Homo sapiens: one gene and its partners. The protein of the gene in region 2 interacts with the protein of the main gene of each other region in a pairwise test. Each region holds a gene or a part of one and is shown on either strand. Other genes may lie near its edges.

Evidence for each region. Proteins that work in one complex are often made in the same cells at the same time.
Region 1: the proteins of TNKS (region 2) and UBASH3B interact in binary tests that used the Homo sapiens proteins (3 or more experiments, as listed by UniProt).
Region 3: the proteins of TNKS (region 2) and CPAP interact in binary tests that used the Homo sapiens proteins (3 or more experiments, as listed by UniProt).

The regions. Positions count from the first base shown.
Region 1 is NC_000011.10:122,650,889-122,658,739, forward strand, and holds the start of UBASH3B (ubiquitin-associated and SH3 domain-containing protein B), read left to right. Parts: upstream 1-4,833; 5' UTR 4,834-5,161; coding exon 5,162-5,322; intron 5,323-7,851. UniProt on the Homo sapiens protein: Interferes with CBL-mediated down-regulation and degradation of receptor-type tyrosine kinases. Promotes accumulation of activated target receptors, such as T-cell receptors and EGFR, on the cell surface.
Region 2 is NC_000008.11:9,558,912-9,565,933, forward strand, and holds part of TNKS (poly [ADP-ribose] polymerase tankyrase-1), read left to right. Parts: intron 1-7,022.
Region 3 is NC_000013.11:24,919,844-24,926,670, forward strand, and holds the start of CPAP (centrosomal P4.1-associated protein), read right to left. Parts: upstream 3,019-6,827; 5' UTR 2,918-3,018; intron 1-2,917. UniProt on the Homo sapiens protein: Plays an important role in cell division and centrosome function by participating in centriole duplication. Inhibits microtubule nucleation from the centrosome. Involved in the regulation of slow processive growth of centriolar microtubules.

The DNA.
Region 1 (7,851 bases), on a different chromosome or scaffold from region 2:
CTCATGCCTATAATCCCAGCACTTTGAAGGGTTGAGGCAGGAGAATCAGTTGAGTCCAGGAGTCCAAGACCAGCCTGGGCAACACAGCAAGACCTCATCTCTCCAAAAAAAAAAAAAGAAGCTGGGCATGGTGGGACACACCTGTAGTCCCAGTTACTCAAGAGGTTGAGGTGGGAGGATAGTTTGAGCCCAAGTTGAGACCACTGCACTCCAGCTTGGGTGACAGAGCAAGACCCTGAAAAACACAAAGCAAAACAAACAAAACAAAAGAAAAAAAAAGGAAAGAAAAAAACACTTAAAAAAATTAGATCTTGGCCATGCCCTGTGGCTCATGCCTATAATCCCAGCACTTTGGGAGGCTGAGGCGGGCAGATCACTTGAGGTTGGGAGTTCGAGACCAGCCTGGCCAACATGGTGAAACCCTGTCTCTACTAAAAATGCAATAATTAGCTGGGCGTGATGGCACATGCTTGTAATCCCAGCTACTTGGGAGGCTGAGGCAGGAGAATTGCTTGAACCCGGGAGGCAGAGATTGCAATGAGCTGAGATCGTGACACTACACTCCAGCCTGGGTGACAGGGAGAGACTCCGTTTCAAAACAAACAAACAAAACAAAAAACAAAAAAACTCCCAACATATAAAGCTGATAGACTTACAATGAAAGAAAAGAGGATACCACACTACCCTCTTAATCCTCAGTTGGGTGACCCCAACCCCTGTCCCTCAAAGTTCCTGGGGGTCCCTTGACAAAATCCTAGCGATCCCCAGGCTAAGCTAATCCCCTCATTTGGCAAGCAAGGAAGTTGAGGCCCAGAGAGGGGCAGCACATGGTTTCAAAATCTTCTGACCACGAAGGATCCCCTTAAAGTCTAGGGGTGAAAGTCATTCCCAGCAGTTCCAAAGCTGCCTTTGTTTGGCAAGGCAACACCCCAGCCTTTAGGATTTGAAACAGTGGGCAGACTTTACTGCCTGTTTTTGTTGTTGTTGTTATTTGTTTGTTTTTTTGTTTTGTTTTGTTTTGGGACGGAGTCTCGCTCGGTTGCCTAGGATGGAGTGCAGTGGCGGGCGTGACCTCAGCTCACTGCAGCCTCTGCCTCCCAGGTTCAAGCCATTCTCTGTCTCAGCCTCCCGAGTAGCTGGGATTACAAGCACCTGCCACCACACCTGGCTAATTTGTTTGTATGTTTAGTAGAGACAGGGTTTCACCATCTTGGCCAGGTTGGTCTTGAACTCCTGACCTCGCGATGCACCCGCCTCGGTCTCCCGAAGTGCTGGGATTACAGGCATGAGCCACCGCGCCAGGCCTTGTTTGTTTTTTTTAACAGGGTCTCACTTTGTCACTCAGGCTGGAGTGCAATGGTGCCATCTCAGCTTGGCTCACTGCAACCTCGACCTCCCAAGTTCAAGCAATCCTCCTGCCTCAGCCCTCCAAGCAGCTGGGACTACAGGCACACACCACCATGCTGGGCTAATTTTTATATTTTTAATTAAGATGGGGTTCACCATTTTGCCCAGGTTGGTCTCAAACTCCTGAGCTCAAGCAATCTGCCCACCTGCCTTAGCCTCCCAAAGTACTAGAATTACAGACCTACTGCATGTTCTTATTGTTATTACTTGACCGTTCCTCAAGGACAGAGTGAAGGAGAAGGAGAAGATATAGGACATGCTTCAGAAATTGTGAGTGCAGCCAACTGGGTCCATCCTGGGTCTCCCTCTGGCCATCTGAGAGGATGTACCATAGCAAAAATATGGCAGGGGCCAATGAGGGAGGGTTAAACATGCTCACATGAACAAAGAGAGCTTTGTGGTCCAGAGTGGATTCTGACATGACCACACACGGAGACATGTCAACTTGCTTTCCCTTCTGAGGGAGGAACTTCATGCTGATGTGTCAGCTCTGTCCCTGTGCAAGACCCCTACTCCCATCTCACTTCTTTTGGCCACTGTAAGATATACTGCCAGATGAATAGTCATTTCTCTTCTCTCAATTTATTTATTTGTTTAGAGATGGAGTCTTGCTCTGTCACCAGGCTGGAGTGCAATGGCATGATCTCAGCTCACTGCAACCTCCGCCTTCCAGGTTCAAGCGATTCTCCTGCCTTAGCCTCCGGAGTGGCTGGGACTACAGTCACATGCCACCATGCCCAGCTAATTTTTGTATTTTTAGTAGAGATTGGGTTTCACCTTGTTGGCCAGGATGGTCTCGATCTCTTGACCTTGTGATTCGCCCACCTCAGCCTCCCAAAGTGCTGGGATTACAGGGGTGAGCCACCGCACCCAGCCCCCCTCTTCTCTCTTTGTAATAGAACAGTGTAGACATTTATGAAGCTTTTCCTAGCTTTTCAACGTCAACACAATTAAAGCACAATGCATCTGAATTGCCAGCCCCCCAACCCAGTGCAGAACAAATGGCAGGAGTCCTAAATAAAACAGGGGTTTGCACTGAGCTGAAGACAAGTGAGGAAGCCAAGCTGGGATTTCTGTAAAAGTGTCCCAGACAAAAACAGTTTGCATCTCAGGTGCCTAGTTTTTCATAGTGCTTTTTCCAGTCTACCTAAAACTATTTTTATATGCATCATTTCCTTTATCTTACAGTTTGCCTAAAGGCAGGGAGAAAGACAATTAATTCAATTTTTCTGGAGAAACAGAGATCCAGCAATTCTATGTCAAGGGGCATAGATGGAGTCAAAAAACTATCTTAAAGGCTGGTGTCCTTTTATCATCATAACAATGGTCGTTAACTAGTTGTTTGGCCAAATGTTAAGAGTTCAAATCTTGGCTCTGCCATTTACTAGCCATGTGACCTTGGACAAGATACTTGACCTCTGGCTCAGCACCTTCATTTGTAAAGTAGTTCCTAGTTCATAGTCTTGTCAAGGAATTGTTTGAGTCACATATGTAAGAAGCAAAGAACAACACCAGCATATAGTAAGTACTCAATAAATTTGAGTTATCATTTATGTAGCGCTTTATGGTTTACAAAGCGCTTTCACATACATTATTATCTCTTGACTAAGATCCAGATCATTTGACTTTCAGCCCAGGCATTTGGAAACAATTCAGAATACTGGATAAAATCCAGCATGTTTTACCGAACACATCCAAGGAGGCTAATACTAGGTATGGTGTTGCCAGCCCAGTCTTGTCTTTTTGCTCCATGTCCTGGAAGAGCATTCTGCAAGGTCTCCAGGATATCCCCTTTGCTCTGGAAGCAGCTACTACCCAGGAAGCATTAATTTTCCCTCATCCTTTGTACAGCAGGAGGCAGAATTAATACACATTGTTGCTTAAGCTCCAGCTGTCTTATCTCCCTGCTTCCAAACACCACTGGCTATTCTTTAGGAAACCAATTCCGGGCTCAGGGAGTTACACTGTATCATTTCCCCTGGTAAAACCTTCACAGGCCTTATAAAGCAACCTCAAAAAGCCACTCCATGGGTGCTGGTCACCATCCCTCCCCCATATTCCAACCAGGGACAGGCCCGGACTGACATTTCTGGAAAACCCAGTGTGTGCAAGGTTAGGTTACCACGGTCCATACCAATGAGGAAATTAGGCTGTAGAGAGAAGTAACTTGTCTAAGGCACCGCAGTGGATACGAGTGCTGTAGCTACGCACTTACCAGCTCTATGATCTTCCCCAACCTCTCTGAGCTGAGTTTTCTCATCTGTAAAACTGGGATAATGATTAAACACACTCCTAGGGTCAGTATAAAACTTCAGTGAGTTCATTCATTACGATTAGCACAATGACTGGCACATACAAGAGCCCAATAAATGTTAGGTTTTATTATTATTATTACCCAAAAAAGACTATCAGTTAGGGTGTACTCATTGCCTCTTTCATTATAGCAAGTGGGACCCTTGTCCCTGACTGAAGACAATGACTTTGTTTCCAAACGAAAGAGGGTTAGCATCCCCCAGCCAAATTCACCAGGTGGGGCATGGGGCATCAATATGGTTGTGGCTTCCACCATCTTTGCAGTGGGAGTAGTTTTGTCCAGCCTATGATACAATTCACTTATTATTGTGCAGTGGTGATTCGGTCCGTCTTTGAATCCTTTTATTGACAGGATATCCACTCCCTAATGAAATAAGCCCGTTCCCTTTTGAACACCTCTTATAATTAGGAAGTATGTTTTCTCTGTTCCTTCTTCCTCTACCCTCCTAGCCCTTCCTTCTTCTCCTCCTCCTTCCTCCTTTCTTTTTCCCTTCCCTCTTCTTTCTGCCCTGTCCCTCTTTTCTTGTCCCCTCCCAGGTCCTGCCACCTCTGAGAACCTGAGGTCCTTCTCCCCAACCCCTCTGCCCCACCGGGAAGGCACTATTCAGTCACTGACCATAACCTTGTAGAGCGCAGTAGGTCTTTAGTGCAGCCACTTGGCCGGCTGATTGGGAACTCAACTTCCGATGGTCCTAACAACCCTTTGGGTTTTGCAGGATCTTTGAGAAGCAAAACCTTTTACCTAGGCCTTACGGCTTGGCCTTCTGGTCCATTAGTATCATCCACCAGTTCACCCAATTTCCATTAATAACCGCATCTAGAATCACATGAAACTTGAGATGGGTTGATCTCCTGTCTTGAGGCCCAGCTGGGCGGGTATGCCAGCCAAGGAGAGGGCTGGGGCGCCGGGGGTGACTCTCGGGAGGTGAAGCACACAAGCAGCCCATAAGGTTGGGATCCTCCGTCTCCAAGTAGCGCGACTACAGCTCTTGCCCGCACGGAGCAGCCTCGGACAGCGCGGCCGCTTTAAGAGAGGGGCGGGGCCCGGGTACAGGCAAGTCAGGGCCAGCCCACAAGGCTCCTTTTCCTTTTTGATCCATTCAAAAATTACTCATTGCAAATTCCCGGACTGCTAGGCGAGGAGAGGGAAGGGGGCGGAGGAGACAGGGCTACTGCAGGCGCAGAGCTGGGGGCAGCCGGGGGCCCGAGTGGCTGAGGCTGGTCCCGCAGCGGCCGCTTGCCGGCGTTCTGGCTCCTGTGGCCTCACCAGGAAGCGTCAGAGTCCCGACACTGGGGAAGCTCGGAGCGCCGCCTCCGCTGCCGCCGCCTCCTGCCTGGCTCTGGGTCCCCGAGCCCCCTCCCCTGGCCCAGCCCGACTCCCTCCTCCTTCCCGAACCATCCGGCTCGGGCTCCTTCCCTGGCGATGGCTGGCCGCTGAGCCATGGCTCAGTACGGCCACCCCAGTCCGCTCGGCATGGCTGCGAGAGAGGAGCTGTACAGCAAAGTCACCCCCCGGAGGAACCGCCAACAGCGCCCCGGCACCATCAAGCATGGATCGGCGCTGGACGTGCTCCTCTCCATGGGGTTCCCCAGAGCCCGCGCGTAAGTGGCCGGGCTCGCAGCCCTCGGCGACCCCTCCCGCGCGCGCGGCCGGCCCTCGGCTTCGCTCCGGCTCGCCTCCCAGCGCCTGCGGGACAGGCAGCGCGCTCCCCGCTGCCCGAGACCTGTTGGGGGCGGGATGGGCGCGCTGGCAACCCGGGACTCGGCTCCGGGCGGGGGTGCGGGGGAAGACGCGGCGCGGGGGCGTTGGGCCAGGGCTCGCCGTGGGATGCCTAAAGCTGGGGGACGAGGGCGCGGGGTTCGAGTCCCGGGTATAGTGCTCAGCCTCCGCCCCAGCCGGGTGGAGCTCAGCGTTTCTCTCGCGCGCTCCCCTAGGTCTCCAGCGCCGAGCGCCTAGGGAGGCGGGGCCCTGCGGAGGACTCGGGCACCCTCTCCGTCTGGAATACTGGGCTGGTCTGGGATCCTCCGGTGTCTGGGAAAGGGCGGGAGACTGCGGGGCAGGGAGGCCGGCGCCCCCGTTGCAGCGGCTTCCAGCTCCGGATGTCGCTCTCGGGTTCGGTCTCCCCCTGGAGTAGGAGGAGCGGGAGCGTGGGTGTTCCTGCGTGTTCATTGATGGGGAGGATGGAATCAGAAGGAGAAGCGATCCCTCCAGGGGACCTGGGTTCTCGTCAGTGGTGACGGCAGCTCAGAAATCTGTGGGTGCCTGAGAGTAAGGAGGGGGAGCTGTTCTTCATCCTTCCTCTAGGAGAGTGGGGTAGGGGAGGGCAGGGAGAGCGCAGGTGGCTGCCCCTGGAGCCTGCTGGGGAGAGGCCTGTTTGCCAGCATAGGGTGGCGGCGGCCGGAGTCGTCTCAGGCCGGTCGGCTCAAGTCTCAGGGGCTGGAACTCTGCCTAAGAGGAAGCCAAGGCCCAGCGGCCAGGCCCTTCTCCCCTGGTTAATCCCTGCCGTGCAGATTTCTTAGGTGGGGACACAAGGCCTGGCGTCCGGACTGGGCGCAGCTTCTTTTCATCTTTGAATTACAGCACCTGAACAGGAGAGTTGGCCAAACTTAATCAGTGAGGGCCAAGTAAATGAAAGTCCTTTTTATTTTTTTCCCTTCTCACATTTTTTTTTCAGGTGATAACTTTATTTATGTATTTATTTTTCTGAGACGGAGTCTCGCTGTGTCGCCAGGCTAGAGTGCAGTGGCGCAATCTCTGTAACTTCCGCCTCCCAGGTTCAAGCGATTCTCCCACCTTAGCCTCCTGAGTAGCTGGGACCATAGACATGCGCCACCACACCGGGCTAATTTTTATATTTTTAGAAGAGATGGGGTTCTGCCATGTTGGCCAGGCTGGTCTCGAACTCCTGACCTCAGGTGATCCACCCACCTCGGTCTCCCAAAGTGCTGGGATTACAGGCAATAACTTTATGTCTCCCCTCCCTTATCTCTGGGCAAACCTTGTTTATTCTCTACTAACTTGGTTGTAATCTGTTAATCAAAGTAGACCCTTGAATTTGTTATTCTCCAGGCTGCTGGGACACGTTGGAGTGGCCTTAGAAGGCTGCAAAATGGACTGATGGTTTCTGCCTTCCACTGACGTCCCAATACGACTTCCTAATACTAGGGCTCCAGTTCCTGATACCAGAATTACAGGGAGAAAATGTGGGTTCTGCAGGGGTGTGTCAGGTGTGGACGCTTCAGGTGAAGTCGTCGGTGTGGATGATCAATGTGCACAGCTCTCCTTAAAAACTGGAGGTGGGGCTGGGTGTAACCCCAGCAGTTTGGGAGGCTGAGGCAGCCGGATCACTTGAGATCAGAAGTTTGAGACCAGCCTGGCCAACATGGTGAAACCCTGTCTTTACTAAAAATACAAAAATTAGCTGGGTGGGGTGGTGCATGCCTGTAATCCCAGCTACTTGGGAGGCTGAGATAAGAGAATCGCTTGAGCCCAGTAGGTGGAGGTTGTAGTGAGCCAAGATCGCACCACTGCACTCTAGCCTGGGTTACAGAGCGAGACTTCATCTCAAGAAAAAAAAAAAAAAAAAGCTGGAGGTGGGAGTGGGGAAGTCAGCTGGGGAATGCTGCAGAATTAGCATAGTCTCAGGCTACTGCCTTTTTTGAAATAAGGCCAGCATTAAAAACCTAAATTGCTTAATTAAGGGAAGAAATACTTAACTGAACTCCTCAGTCATATTTGAGATTCAAATTCAAATCAGCTTTAAAGGGACATCTTTTCTCCTGCTCTGAGTCCAGGAGGTCTTGACATGTCTTGACAGATTAGCATAAGGGTCATTTTTGGCTTGTTTAACCCCTGAGGTCTCCTAATAGCTAGCATGTATTGAATACTTACTCCATACTGTTCTAAGTACTTATATCTTTATTACCCATTTTATCCTCCTAGCAACTCAATGAGGAAGGTACCACATGCCCATTTTATGAATTGGGCAACTGAGGTTTAGAAGGGTTGCATAACTTGCTCAAGGTCACAACAGTAAGCAGTGAAGCTGGGATTCAAACCCAGGTATTCTATCTGCACAGCCCAGGCCTCACACCATCTAGGGCCAGTAGGGCCAGGATAGAAATGATTGA
Region 2 (7,022 bases):
TGTATAGGCTGAGAAATGAAAAAAATTATCAGTTGACTGGTTATTATGATAGTAATTGAATTGTCACGGAATAGCTGTTTTAAAGATGAGAAATTGGTACAATCCCTTGGATGGAAAAATTTAAAAACTGCAGTTTATTTGTTCCAGAAATATTTTAGTGTGCTTAGATGATCGGGTGTTAAATACTGACACAATTGTGTAATGGCAAGCAGCCCTTAACCCTTATGGAGCTTACAGTCTAGTGGGGAAGCATAAACAACAACAACAACAAAAACCTATAAAGTATCTAGTGTCTAATCTAGAGTGATAGGAAACGTATATTATACTGTCTGTCCCAATATGTAATAGGAGCTCTTATCCTTGTTTTAGAGCAGTTAAGGAAGTCTTTGTAGGTAGATTTTTTTAAAGCAGGAATTAAAAGGGTGAGCCCAAGCTAGCCAAGCAAAGGTTGGAAGGGACGATGTTAACTAATGCTTTTATTTATTTTTAAAAATGAGTTTACAGTTCTATAGAATGAAATGAAACAATTTTTTTTTCTTTCCAACTTTTAGGTTCAGGGATTACATGTGCAGGTTTGTTACATGGGTAAATTGTGAATCTTGGGGGCTTTAGTGTACAGATTATTTCATCACCTAGGCAATGAGCATAGTAGCAGATAGGTAGTTTTTTGATTTTCAGCCTCCCCCATCCCTACCCTCCACCCTTAAGTAAGCCCCAGTGTGTATTCTTCCCTTGTCTGTGTCCATGTGTACTCAAGGTTTAGCTCCCACTTACTTAAGTGAGAACATGTGGTATTTGGAAATCATTTTTAAAGATCTCAGATGTGGTATGAAACCATATTTAAATCCTTATCACTTTATTTATATTACCTTAAGAATAATCATATTCTTTCCAGCAGTAAAATTAAGAATCCTTTGTATCCTATCTTGGATTGTGATAATTTGTTTAGAATATGGTTTAGAGACTGTGTTAATAATGGAATCATCCTATCTGCAGTTAAGACAAAATCTTGTTTCCATTGTTGATACAGGTTCTCAAAATACTATTTTTGATGCCTTTGTAAGATGGCTTTGTAAAGATGAGCCATTCTTTTATTGTTGACTAGAATTTATATGAGACTTTTTCTTCTACAGATGTGGTCCTTGACCCTGGTTTTCTATTATTTAAAGTATAGCAGTCAAAATAGTTTTATAAATAGTACCAATTTAGAGTGATACCTCCTTAGGATGGTTTCTAGTAGTGACATATTTTTGTTAAAGGACCCATATATTCTGAAGACGTCTCTTTTTATAGAAAAGTTTAAATGAGGTCTTTTTTTTATTAAGGCCTTAGTAAAACATTAAATTCTGAGATTTTATAGTATTTACATGAAATTGAAGAAATCTTGAAATGGGCTTCCTGTTAGTTAACATATACGACTTGGATTATGATAGGTAATGTGAGGTATTTTAAAATAAAAACTAGTTTTCTTTGTTGGGTTTTGTTTTTAATGGTATCTACTACAATACATATTTAACAGTACAGAGATTTTTCAACTCATTCCTGACTCTTCTCTAGATTTTTCAGCATGGCCATACTTGTCTTTTTTTTTTTTTTTTTTTTTTTTTTTTTTCATTTCTCGCCTTTGTACAAATGTCGTTCCTGTTAATAATAGAAGTCACCATATACTCTAGATTGTTGCCTATCAGTGGGTAATAAAATGAGTCAGAATGCTGCAGTCTTGGAGTGGGAATTATCTTACACTTCTCGTTGCCTGGCAAGATCCTTTATATTACTTGTAAGCAAATGCCCTGTCTGAGGATGTAAGAAGGGTCTAATTTGGTAATAGAAGAAAGGGACCTAGTTTCATAAATATCTTCCCAGACTTAAAATTGTTGATTATAAACTGGATTACCTTTTACTTAGTGTTTTCTTAAAACCTTAACACTTTTCTGAAGGTACCTCTTTAAAAAAAAAAGTTTACAGAGAACTTTTAGTTAGAAAGATGTGCAAAGTGTCTCTTTCTTTTACCTCAATGATACTGCTCTTTGGAAGCAAATGATTTAAAGAACAAATTAGCCATTTATAAGATGATATGTAAATTTATTGCTAATAGCAAAAAATTTGTAACAAGCCAACTGTTCAACAATAGAGAAATGCTTACATAAATTATAATACTGTACAATTTCTATTACATGTGTATTCCTACATATATGTTCTTTTATCCGTCAATCATCTTTTTATTAAAGCATGTGAGTGTAAATAGTAGGCATCTGTGCAGCTTCTCCAAATATGCTAATTTGCATATCATTATCTAAGTTCAGTATTTGTGTAAAGATTTATCTTTTAGTGTGAAATCTGTGCAAATCTTATGTGTACATTCACTGAGTTTTGACAAATGCAGATACATGTGTAACTGAACTTATGACTTTCCTTATAGAAACTTCAGAAAGTTCCCTCATACCCCTTATCTCAATCTTGTCACTACCCCTTTTCCCTCAGGCAACCACCATTCTGATGTTTTTTCCACTATAGAATAAGAGTTGCCTGTTTTAGAATTTCATATAAATGCAGTCATACAATATTTAGTCTTTCTGTAAGACTTATTTTGCTCAGCATGTTTTTGATTTTGTAACGTGTATCAGTAGTTTCTTTTTACTGCTGAGTAGATTTCATTATATGAATATGCTGCAGTTTGTGTATCCCTTCAATTGATAGACCCTTAAGCTGATTCCTGTTTTGGCTATTATGAATAAAGTCGCAATGAACATTCTTATAAAATCCTTTTTGTGGACACGGATTTTCTTTCTCTTGGGCAAATACCTAGTATTAGAATCTCTGGGTCTTAGGGTAGGTAAATGTCCGGTTTTATAAGAAACTGCCAACACCTTTCCCCAAAGTATATGTACCATTTTACATTCCCATCAACGATTTTTGATGGTTGCTGTTTGATTTTGCTCTTGTTGCCCAGGCTGTCGTATAATGGTGCGATCTTGGCTCACTGCAACCTCTGCCTCCTCGGTTCAAGCGATTCTCCTGCCTCAGCCTCCTGAGTAGCTGGGATTACAGGCGCCCACCACCACGCCCAGCTAATTTTTGTATTTTTAGTAGAGACGGGGTTTCACCATGTTGACCAGGCTGGTCACGAACTCCTGACCTCAGGTGTTCCATCCACCTCAGTCTCCCAAAGTGCTGGGATTACAGGAGTGACCCACCACGCCTGGCCTTATATATCTTTTATGAAGTTTTGTCCTTTTTTTTTCTACTGGGCACACTTCAGTTTTATTCAGTTTTGTTGGGTTATCTTTTATTATTAAGTTTAAGAGTACTTTATATATTCTGCATACTAGTGCTTTGTGGGATAAATGTGCTAATATTTTCTCCCAGGCTATGAATTACTGATTAATTTTCTTAATGAGAGTCATTTGAATAGAAATTTTAAATTTAATTTATATATTTATTTTATGGTTATTGCTTTCTCTGACTCATCACCTGGATAAGAACTTTTATCTGGCCCCAAGTCATAGAAGTTCTCATACATATCCTATGAAAATCTTTATGATTTTAGCTACATTTTATCAGATGTGACTATATCCACTTCAGTATTCTTATGCTGTGTGTGGCATTTTTCTATTCATTCACTTTCAATCAATCTGCCTTTATATTTAAAGTGTGTCTATTATAGACAGTATATATGTGAGTGTTGCTTTTTAAGACATTCTGACAATCTGTGTCTTTTAATCTACCTCATTAACTAATATTGATACTTCCAATTCAAACTCAGAACTATAGGGTTTTTACTTACCTCTTCTATGTTGCATCTGGCCATCATTTCTTCCATACCTAAACTTTTATTTTTCAAGGACCTGCTAAGAGCTGTTAATGTTGAAGGTCTGATGAGAATGGGAATTTCCTTCCCTTAGCCTTTTTTTTTTCTTTCTAGATGGGCAAAGGATTTTTTTTTTCTCTTCCATTAAAGACCAGATATTCTATTACAGTATGTCTTGGTGTTCGTTTCTCTAGATAGATTTTCTCAGGTATGTGGTATGGCTTTTCTTTACATAGTTTCAGATCTTTTATTTCAGAAAAGTTTCTCAAATTATACTTTTTATTATTCGTTCTTTTCTTTTTATGTATATTGAAACTTTGCCTCTTCTAAATTTGTTACTTGCTCCATTTCTTTAATACGATATATGTAAAATTTACCATTTTAACCATTTTAAGTGTACAGTTTTGTGGCATTAAGTTCATTCGCCATGTTATGCAGCCATCACCATTGTCCATTTCCAGAACATTTTTTGTCATCTTAAATAAGCTCTTGTACCCATTAAACTATGTCTATCTGCCCCCAAACCCCTGATAACTGTCACTTTCTTTTGAATCCTATTAAAAAATATATATCTTCTTTTTTTATTAACTTTTTTTCTCCTTTCATCTTCTATTTTTCTTAAGGCAGGAGTTGGAAACTTTCTGTAAATGGCCAGATAGTAAATATTTTAGGCTTTGTAGCCATATGGTCCCTCTCATAGCTACTCAGTTTTGCTTTTATACTGTGAAAGTTTCCATAGACTATATGTAAATGAATGAGTGTGATTGTGTTCCAGTAAAATTTTATTTATGAGAATAGGTGATGGGCCAGATTTGGTGTATGGGTTGTAGTTTGCTGACCTCTGTTATAAGGCATTATATGTGGCATTTTTTCCATTTTGTGTTCTTTCTTTTGTAGTCCTTTCTTGAAATTATTTTTTCTTTTATTTTGAATTATTTTCTGAACTCTCTCCTTTTATTTCTAACTCAGGCACATGCTATACGTTCATATCTTGTATCATTCTCGTATTCTCTTTTAGCTAGTGTTAAAATAATTGATTATAATTTTGTCTGCTTTGTGGGCATTTTTTTCTGTTAGGTATTAATTGTCTGCGGGGATGTTATTCTCCAAATTCTTCTTGTAAGAATTTTGTATGTATTTGACCTCAGTTACTTTCGTTGCTCATTTTTACAGAAATTAATTACTAAATAATTTCAAGGATAAAAATAAAGGTCTGAGATAGTTAAGGTAATCCCCCCTGTCCCTTTTTGTTGTGCTACACCTGCAGCTCTGGCCTAGAATAGATCAAGTCTCTCAGTAAGGTCTGCAGGATCATCTTTTACAGTAGTAGCATTTAAATTATGAAACATCATCATTTTATACCTCTGTTTATATAACCTATGAGACATTTTTTCAGGAACCTTAACCGGAGACATTGTGCTAAGGGCATTTTATAGATAAAGTCTCTTCCTGATAGATTACTATTTAGTCTTTTTGGTAAGTGTAGTCCAGTCACCTGTAAAGCATTCCCTACCCCATCAATGAATTGAATAGGTCACAGGCCAGGTGTTCTTTCCTGACGGGAAGTGATTCTTTGACAGTTAACAGGCCAGAGAAATACATTGGGAGGATAGGAGGCATATCATCAAAGGTCGAGTTGTGAGCATAAATATGTTAAAAAAAAAAATCTCAAGCTTAGAATCCAGAAGAAAAGTAATCAAGGAATGTGAATAATTCTGAGAAAATAAATTTTATTGTAATGTTAGGTTTGGTTTTGGAAAGGAATAAACATGAGCTCTGTGATGACATGAGGGAGAAAACACTATAGTAGTTTAGTCTTTAATATTTTTAACAGCCTCCTTTTGTGTCATAGACAAAGAATCTTTGGGTAGCTTACTATAAAATATTGCAGTAGATAAAATTGAAGGCAGTTGCTTCTTACCTTTTTATTTTTCCCCATGTCATTGTCCTTGAAGCTACTTTGGCTTATGTTTATTCTTCTGATAGCTAAGTTTTGGTGTAGCCCTGCTCTTGAGGCACCTAATACCATGCATCATTAATAGATACTTATAGTAAGAATTGAATAGGATTAGTTAAGATAAGATGGGTTGGAGTCTGAGGGCTAGGTGCAGCCTCCCCTTACGGGGCTTAATAAAACCAATGAAACATACACGAGAAAGAAACATTCAGAAATGGACTTTCAGTTTCTTGGTGAATAAAAAGCATTATATCTTCAAGAAAAAATGAGTAGGGTGGGTTTCCTAGGGATTTCTACTAAAGCCTAGGAGCTCAGGATAACCCCGGGGCTCATTAAAAAAAAAAAATCACTTTGATTTCAAGTAATTGAGGAAAGTTTTAGGTGTTTTGTTTTTGTGTGCCCGTTGTTTTTCTTTTAAGGCTTCATCAGATGTCTAAGTTTGCTTTCACCAGAGCGAGTTACTGAGTTCTCTTCTCGAATCTTGTTTTGCCAGTTTGTTCAGGTATCTGTTTATAGAATTAAAGCAGCGTGAGGGTAAACTTTTTTTTAAGCTGTTTTTTGGAGTGTGTCAGCTCCCCATTCAATTTAGACAAGTTATTTATTTATTTATTTATTTTGGTTTTGGAAGAGGGAAAATAACGTGATGTAAAATTTTTTCTCTATCCCTTTTGCCTTTTCAGTAGAACAAACTAAACTGCTGGTAGGTGGCAGATGTTTGGACTTGTTTATTTTTTCTTCTTTGGTATATTTTCTTTTAAAGTGAGGAAGCATTTGGTAGTTAGCAGATGATTTCCATGAACTACAAGTCCAAACTGAACAAAATTTGTTTTAAATTTACTGATTGACTCAAAAAACCTTAAAGCTATAGTCTCTGTGTCATTAGTTCAAAAATAAACTAAACCAGCCAGGCGTGGTGGCTCACGCCTGTAATCCCAGCACTTTGGGAGGGCGGATCACAAGGTCAGGAGATGGAGGCCATCCTGGCTAGCACAGTGAAACCCCGTCTCTACTAAAAATACACACACACAAAATTAGCCTGGCGTGGTGGCGGGCGCCTGTTGTCCCAGCTACTCGGGAGGCTGAGGCAGGAGAATGGCGTGAACCCCGGAGGCAGAGCTTGCAGTGAGCCGAGATCACGCCACTGCACTCCAGCCTGGGTGACAGAGCAAGACTCCGTCTCAAAAAAAATAAAAATAAATAAAAATAAAAATAAACTAAACTCCCTGATGCCTTGTTAAAGTGTGTGTATACACACTT
Region 3 (6,827 bases), on a different chromosome or scaffold from region 2:
GCTTCAACCTCCAGTGCTTAGGTGATCCTCCCATCTCAGCCTCCAGAGTAGCTGGGCCTACAGGTATGTGTCACCATGCCCAGCTTATTTTTTATTTTTTAATTTTTTTGTAGAAACAGGGTGTCCCTATGTTGCCCAGGCTGATCTTGAACTCCTAGGCTCAAGCCATCCTCCTGCTTCGGCCTCCCAAAGTGCTGGTATTACAGGTGTGAGTCACTGCGCCCAGCCTAAAAATCAGTTTCTATCATGACAGATGGTGTCATTCTATAAGGCAAAAAATCTGAATTTAATGGGATTTTACAACAAGAGACTGCTGTTTCCCTCGCTGATTCATTCCCCTGTATAATACACATTGAAAATTCTTGTGTTTGGTTTTCTGAAGCATAATCCACGAATAGTATCATGAATATAGTTGTTACAATTGTTCAGTATGTACAAATGCTATCAACTGCCAGTTTATAGAACTGTTAAAAGACATAGAAGACAGTGAACATAATGATACTGTGTTTTTGCCATCGCTCCCTGGTTGAGTTGTAGAAGAGTTGTATAAAGGCTTACTGTACCATTAATTGCAACTGAAGATTTTCTTGGAACAAGATGATTGCCTGCCAACCATTTAATAACCAAAAACAAAAATGCCAATGTGATGTACATTTTCTCACTGTATCACACTTTGAGAACCACAGCTATTCAGGCATTTAAAAAAACAAAAATTGCTGCCACAGGCAGTAACAAAAATAAATAATGATGTGTGAACATCAGACAAATATGATTCCTTTTTTTTTTTTTTTTTTTGAGATGGAGTCTCACTCTGTTGCCCAGGCTAGAGTGCAGTGGTGTGATCTTGGCTCACTGCAACCTCAGCCTCCCGGGTTCAAGCGATTCACCCACCTCAGCCTCCAGAGTAGCTGGGACTACAAGCATGCACCACCATACCTGGCTTTTTTTTTTTTTTGTATTTTTAGTAGAGACGGGGTTTCACTATGTTAGTCAGGTTGTTCTCAAACTCCTGACCTCAAGTGATCCACCTGGCTTAGCCTCCCAAAATGCTGGGATTACAGGCATGAGCCACCGCACCTGGCCCATGTTTCCATGTATATGAAGCTGAAGAACAGGCAAAATAAACCCATAGTTATAAATGGCATATTGGTCGTTATCCAGGAAAATGGGAGTTGTCCTGTCTGTGTGAAAGTTGATCATACAAATTGAGTCATTCTTATAGCCAACTAAACAATCAAGAAGTCAAGAGGGAAAGGCACTCAGGACACACAACTTTGCTCCAAGAATGGAATTCTCTATAAGTCAGTATGCTGAAACTGCCGGTTGTAACCCGAGACCAATTTGATCTATAGATGCTGAGGTAACTTGCTGCAATTGTAGGACTAATTTTGCCCTCCACCATGGCCCACTCGGTAGGACCTGCTGCCTCCCCAGAACCTTAGGAGAACCAATGAACTTTCTCGAAGAGCGACAGATATAACAATTCTCTTTTTTATAAAACCTCCAGCTTTCTCTTTGTTCTTTGGACATACTGAAGACCACCTGGTCTGTACGCCTGGAACCGCCATTCTTTCTTCCCAAATAAAACGTTAAACTTAAGAGATTCATCTCCAAATTTTTGACTTCAACAACTGGGAAGGTTAATACAGGGGGTGGATACACTTAGGCTGTACACTTAAGATTAGCGCACTTTACTGGATATCTGTTATTCCTGAATAATTTGTAAAAACTTTTTCTAAGCAAATTGTTTTTCAGTAGGAAACCAATCTAAAAAAGTAATGACTTTTTTTTTTTCAAAATCAACCACGTAACTTTGCTTAATTTCAATGACCTTAGCAGAAAATCTTTCGAAATCCAAATTCAGAAGGGAGACAAACTACAAGGTCATTTCATAATATGGAAAACTAGAAAAATTCCCTACTAGACTGACAAGTGCAAGCAGTCTTGGGATGCAGCAGCCAGACTTTTGCATCTCCTCCTCCAACTCCCCACCAAACACACCTTCTATACCTTCAATTTCATGACCGCGATTCTAAAAATATATTTAATGTCAGCATGAAGTATAAAAAAAGCGTCACCAGAACCTGCTACTTATTATTGATACTGAGGTCTTGGTAAAGGGAGCATTGATAATATATATGCCGAGATAGGATTAGTATGTGGACTCAGACTTTACAGATATCAAAATCTGAAGGACACGGGTGCACGTGTATGTCAAACTCATCAAATGGAATGCATTTAAACATGTGCCATTTTTATTGTATAGCAATTATACCTCAATAAAACTTTTAAAAAATGTAACAAACTGACAGCCTTGAAATCTCCAGAAAGTGCTATGTAAACATTCTTTAAAGCAGTATTGAAAAAAAGATAAATTCTCTGCACGGTGAGGGAGGAGAGTGGATACAAACAGCAAATTCAAAGCCACTCTTAGACCGTGAGAAGTAACTAGTTGGTCTGGGAAGTGATTTAGCAGTCCCCTAAAATACAACACGTTCTTGAAAGCCATGAATCCACACGAAGCTTCAAGAGAGAAGCCCTTGACAAAGCTGGGGCAAGACCGGCCCTTAGGACAGCCAGCAACGCTACTTCACCACCCTGCTCCAGCGGACTGCGGCTGCCGCGCTGCCCACAGGAACTCAAGTTCCGCCACAGCCAGGTCAGAGAGACAGACACCCCAGAGAGGCCGGCTTCCCCAGCTCTGCGAAGAACAAAGCAGCGCGAATGAACGAAGCCACTGAACTGCCGTGGGCCTCAGCGCGCCCGTGGGCCTGAGCGCGTCCCGGCGCCCCGCTCCCTCCTCGCCCCGCCGAGCCAACCCCGAGGTCCGAGCAGAGTCCTGCCCGCCCACCGCCGTCCATCTCCGGCGCAGGGCGGCGGACAAAGAGCTCCTCCGCTCTTTTCGCCCACAAATTACCGCTCCGTGAAGCCTGGGCAGCTCAGCAGCACGAACCGACACCTCAATCTCCGCAGCATTTACAAATGGGCCGCCACAATCGCCGCCTCTGTCGGAGCCCCGCCCCCGTCCCGAGGTCCTGTGGGAAGTGAGGATCTCACCCGCGCGTCTGCGCTAAAGCGCAGGCACCGCTGAGCCCAGTGAAACTACAACTCCCAGTGACGCCACAGCGACGGGCGTTGCCCGGCGGGGGATGGACTGCGCGCCGCCTTCCGACCAGCAGCGGGCCAGTGGTCGACGTAGGCGGGCGGCGTGGCGGGGCGGAAAACCGTTTCCGGGAGAGACCTTCCGTGGTGGACGTCGCCCCAGGCTCCCACACTTAGAAAACTAAAGGGAACGCCTAACGGAGCGATGGATCTCCGTGTTCCCAGCAAAGCAGGGAGCACGGAGAGTCAAAGCTAACATAGAGCCCAACCGACGCTTAAAGGAGGTGTTTTGGGTTTTGTTTTTTTTTTTTCTATTTGCGTACGGTCTATTTTGTCGTTTTTTTGGTTTGGTTTGGTTTTTTTCTTTGTTTTCCGCTTTGGCTGAGGTGACTTAGTAAAGGAGAAAAAGGGCAGTCCGCTACACCATTTCGTAAGACGAAAATAACCCTATGAGAATTCACTCCAAAAATAGGCATCTTTCATCTCTCCTCAAATGGCTAATCGGTGGTTTGGCAGAGTGTGTCCATTAGATTCTGAAACTAGTTTGAATACTGACAGTGCAGAATTCAAGAAATTTTTTTGTTTTGTTTCGTTTTAACTGCCACGGCCCTTTAATCTAGGAAGTTACAGCACCGTGAGTTACCACAGTACTACATACCTGGCTTCCATGTCTGATTAAACAGCAGGCCAAGTAAAATGTTTAAAGAAATCAAATGAAGTGCCATTTATAACCGTTATAACTGAAACAAACGACTGCTAAAGACAAAACTATTTCACAGAAATTTGGTCCTCCAAAATTTGTTTTGCTTTCTACTTCAAAAAGAGTCTACTTCTCTAAATCAAGATTTCGGTTTTGCTTCTTTTTTCAATTTTTCTTTTCTTTTTTTAATTTTTATTTTTTGAGATGGAGTCTCGCTCTGTTGCCCAGGCTGGAGTACAATGGCGCGATCTCCGCTCACTGCAAGCTCTGCCTGCCGGGTTCACGCCATTCTCCTGCCTCAGCCTCCCGAGTAGCTGGGATTACAGGCGCCCGCCACCACGCCTGGCTAATTTTTTTATTTTTATTTTTAGTAGAGAAGGGGTTTCACCGTGTTAGCCAGGATGGTCTTGATCTTCTGACCTCGTGATCCGCCCGCCTCGGCCTCCCAAAGTGCTGGAATTACAGGCGTGAGCCACCGCGCCCGGCCCAATTTTTCTTTTTAATTTTCACTGTGGGTGAGGAAGCTAAAGCCCGAGACTTCCGAGATCACACAGCTACTTAAGATGCCAGACAAGGACCCAAACAATCTTCCTTTTCATTTATGATAGCCCTTTGGCTTGAAAGCATGCCCAAAAGTCTCATCATTCTTCCTAAAATGTGTATCTTTAAGGATAGTCGCAATATCCTCTATTTTTGTGCCTATATTTTATTCGTATGTTTTTATTTTAATATAGTATGTAGTGCCACATTGTTTGTTGATTGAATAAATAAATGAATCTTTTACCACACTCAAGTCTTAACTGGCTGTTAAATTAAGGTTATAATGTGTAAGTTTTCACCTGTAGCCCATGTAATTCTCAAAACTGCCCACTAAGCTTCAAGGGTTCAAATCCATTACAAGGTGGAAAGGCTAGTGGGGAGGAACTTCCATCTTCTACTCTGCCAGACAATAAAATGTTCTACCTTATCAGTGGTTCCTATCCTTGTTGCATCTTCAGATGGTGCTGTAGAGAAAAATTAGACTAACGGTTGTGGCACAGGGGTTTTAATGCCAGATTACCCGTTCTGATACAATTCTTTATGCCATCATAGGAGTCAAGAGGGCACTCCTATGTCATGGTTAAGAGTCCAGGATTTATCAGGCAGACCTGGGATCAAATCCTAGCTTGATAACTTACAAACAGCTTTGTAGTCTTCAGCACTCAACTTTTCTGAAACCAGTCTTCTCATCTGCAAAACAGGGGTGGATAATAATGAGACCTTCATAGGACTGTCAAGAAGATTACATTAAAAGAAAGACTATGTATGAAAAAGTAGCAAAAAACCTCCACATAGTAAAAAGTCAATGAACAGGAGGTGTTTTCATCTTTATAAAGAATTTAACTGTTGGTGAACTCTTGTCTACCAAAGCCTAGCTCTGTGGGTCTTGTCAAATGCTGTGCCAGACACAGAATAATACTTATTGTATTCCCAAATTATTTGGAAATAATTCTTTTTCATTATTTATTTTTTTGGAGACAGGGGTCTCACTCTGTTGCCCAGGCTGGTCTCTAACTCGTAGGCTCAAGCAGTCCTCTCACCTTGGCCTCTGAAAGTGCTGGAATTACAGGCATGAGCCACTGTGCTTGGCTGGTAATAATTCTTTTAATCAAAGTTGATCTGAGTGACAAAGAGTTGACAGCTTTTCATTGCTGGTCTGATGGTAGCAAGTGTCCACTCTATCCAGAGAGGACATGTCAGGTGCAGTGGCTCACACCTGTAATCCCAGCACTTTGGGAGACTGAAGCGGATAATTTGAGCCTAGACGTTTGAACGTTAGCCAGGTATGATGGTGTGCACCTGTAGCCCTACATACTTGGGAGGCTGAGGCAGGAGGATCACTTCAGCCCAGGAGTTGAAGGTTATGATCACACCACGAGACTACAGCCAGGGCAACAGAGTGAAACCGCCAACTCTTAAAAAGAAAAAAAGTGGGGGAGGACATCAGGGCTAGCCTGGCCAAGGAATGATTCCTATAGATCAGTCAGAGTGGTGGGAGAAACTATAGGGAAAGGAGCAGACCTTCTGAAAAGTCGGAAGCCTCTGCATAGCCTCCAGGGAGAATAAGCTGAAGGCAGCTGTTTTCTGACCCTGAGGCAGAGGGCAAGGAGTAGGTACCAGGAAGCATAGGGGAATTTATCGTAAATAGGCTTGTTTACTTACATTGACCAGGAGCTGACCTTTGATCATCCACATGCGTGACCCGTTCCCTGAAAGGGGAACAATAATGTTAATTACCCACAGATTGTTTTTGCTCCAGGCTTTCAGCATTATGTCTATACTGAATAAAAGCAAGCAGCTCCAGCTGTTTGCCTGCTCACTCTTTGGCCGCTAGTGCCAAGCAGTCCCCTAGCTGCTCTTACACTGCATATCTGCGTCTGAGTACTCGTTTCATCCATCGTCCAGCCAGGGTCTGTGGGACAGACCCAGCAACTGGTGCCCTGTGTGAGGAATGCTGCAACAGATCACGATGGAACCCCCAAAAATGAGGTGAAGAGACTGTGCGGGAAGTAAGTAATTGGTGCCCACTCAGGATTTCCAAGTTTGAGGGAATTTTCAACCTAGGGTTTCATCATGGGACAACAGTTATCAGCTCAACAGCAACACTATATGTAAGTATTGAAACAGCTGCTTAAAGCTAGCAGAGCCTGGGTCTCGGAGGCTCAGTTAAGGGGCCTAATGCAAACTGTTGTTTTCAATAACCCATGGTTCCCAGAAGAAGGCACGTTAGACCAAGAACTCTGGGAGCAAGTGAGGGGAAATCTTAAATAACATCATGCACAAGGGAAACGGGTCCCAGTAACATCTTTAACGTTATGGGCCTTAATCAGGGCTGCTTTGGCCCCACTCTACACAAAAGAGCCTAAAAAGGAAAGGGAAGAGGAACCATCCACCTACCTGACCGCCTCCTCCTCCCTCAGCCCCACTGTTACTAGGTAAAGGTGCCACAGAGGAGACAGAGTTTCCCTGAGCCCCCTCCTCCAAT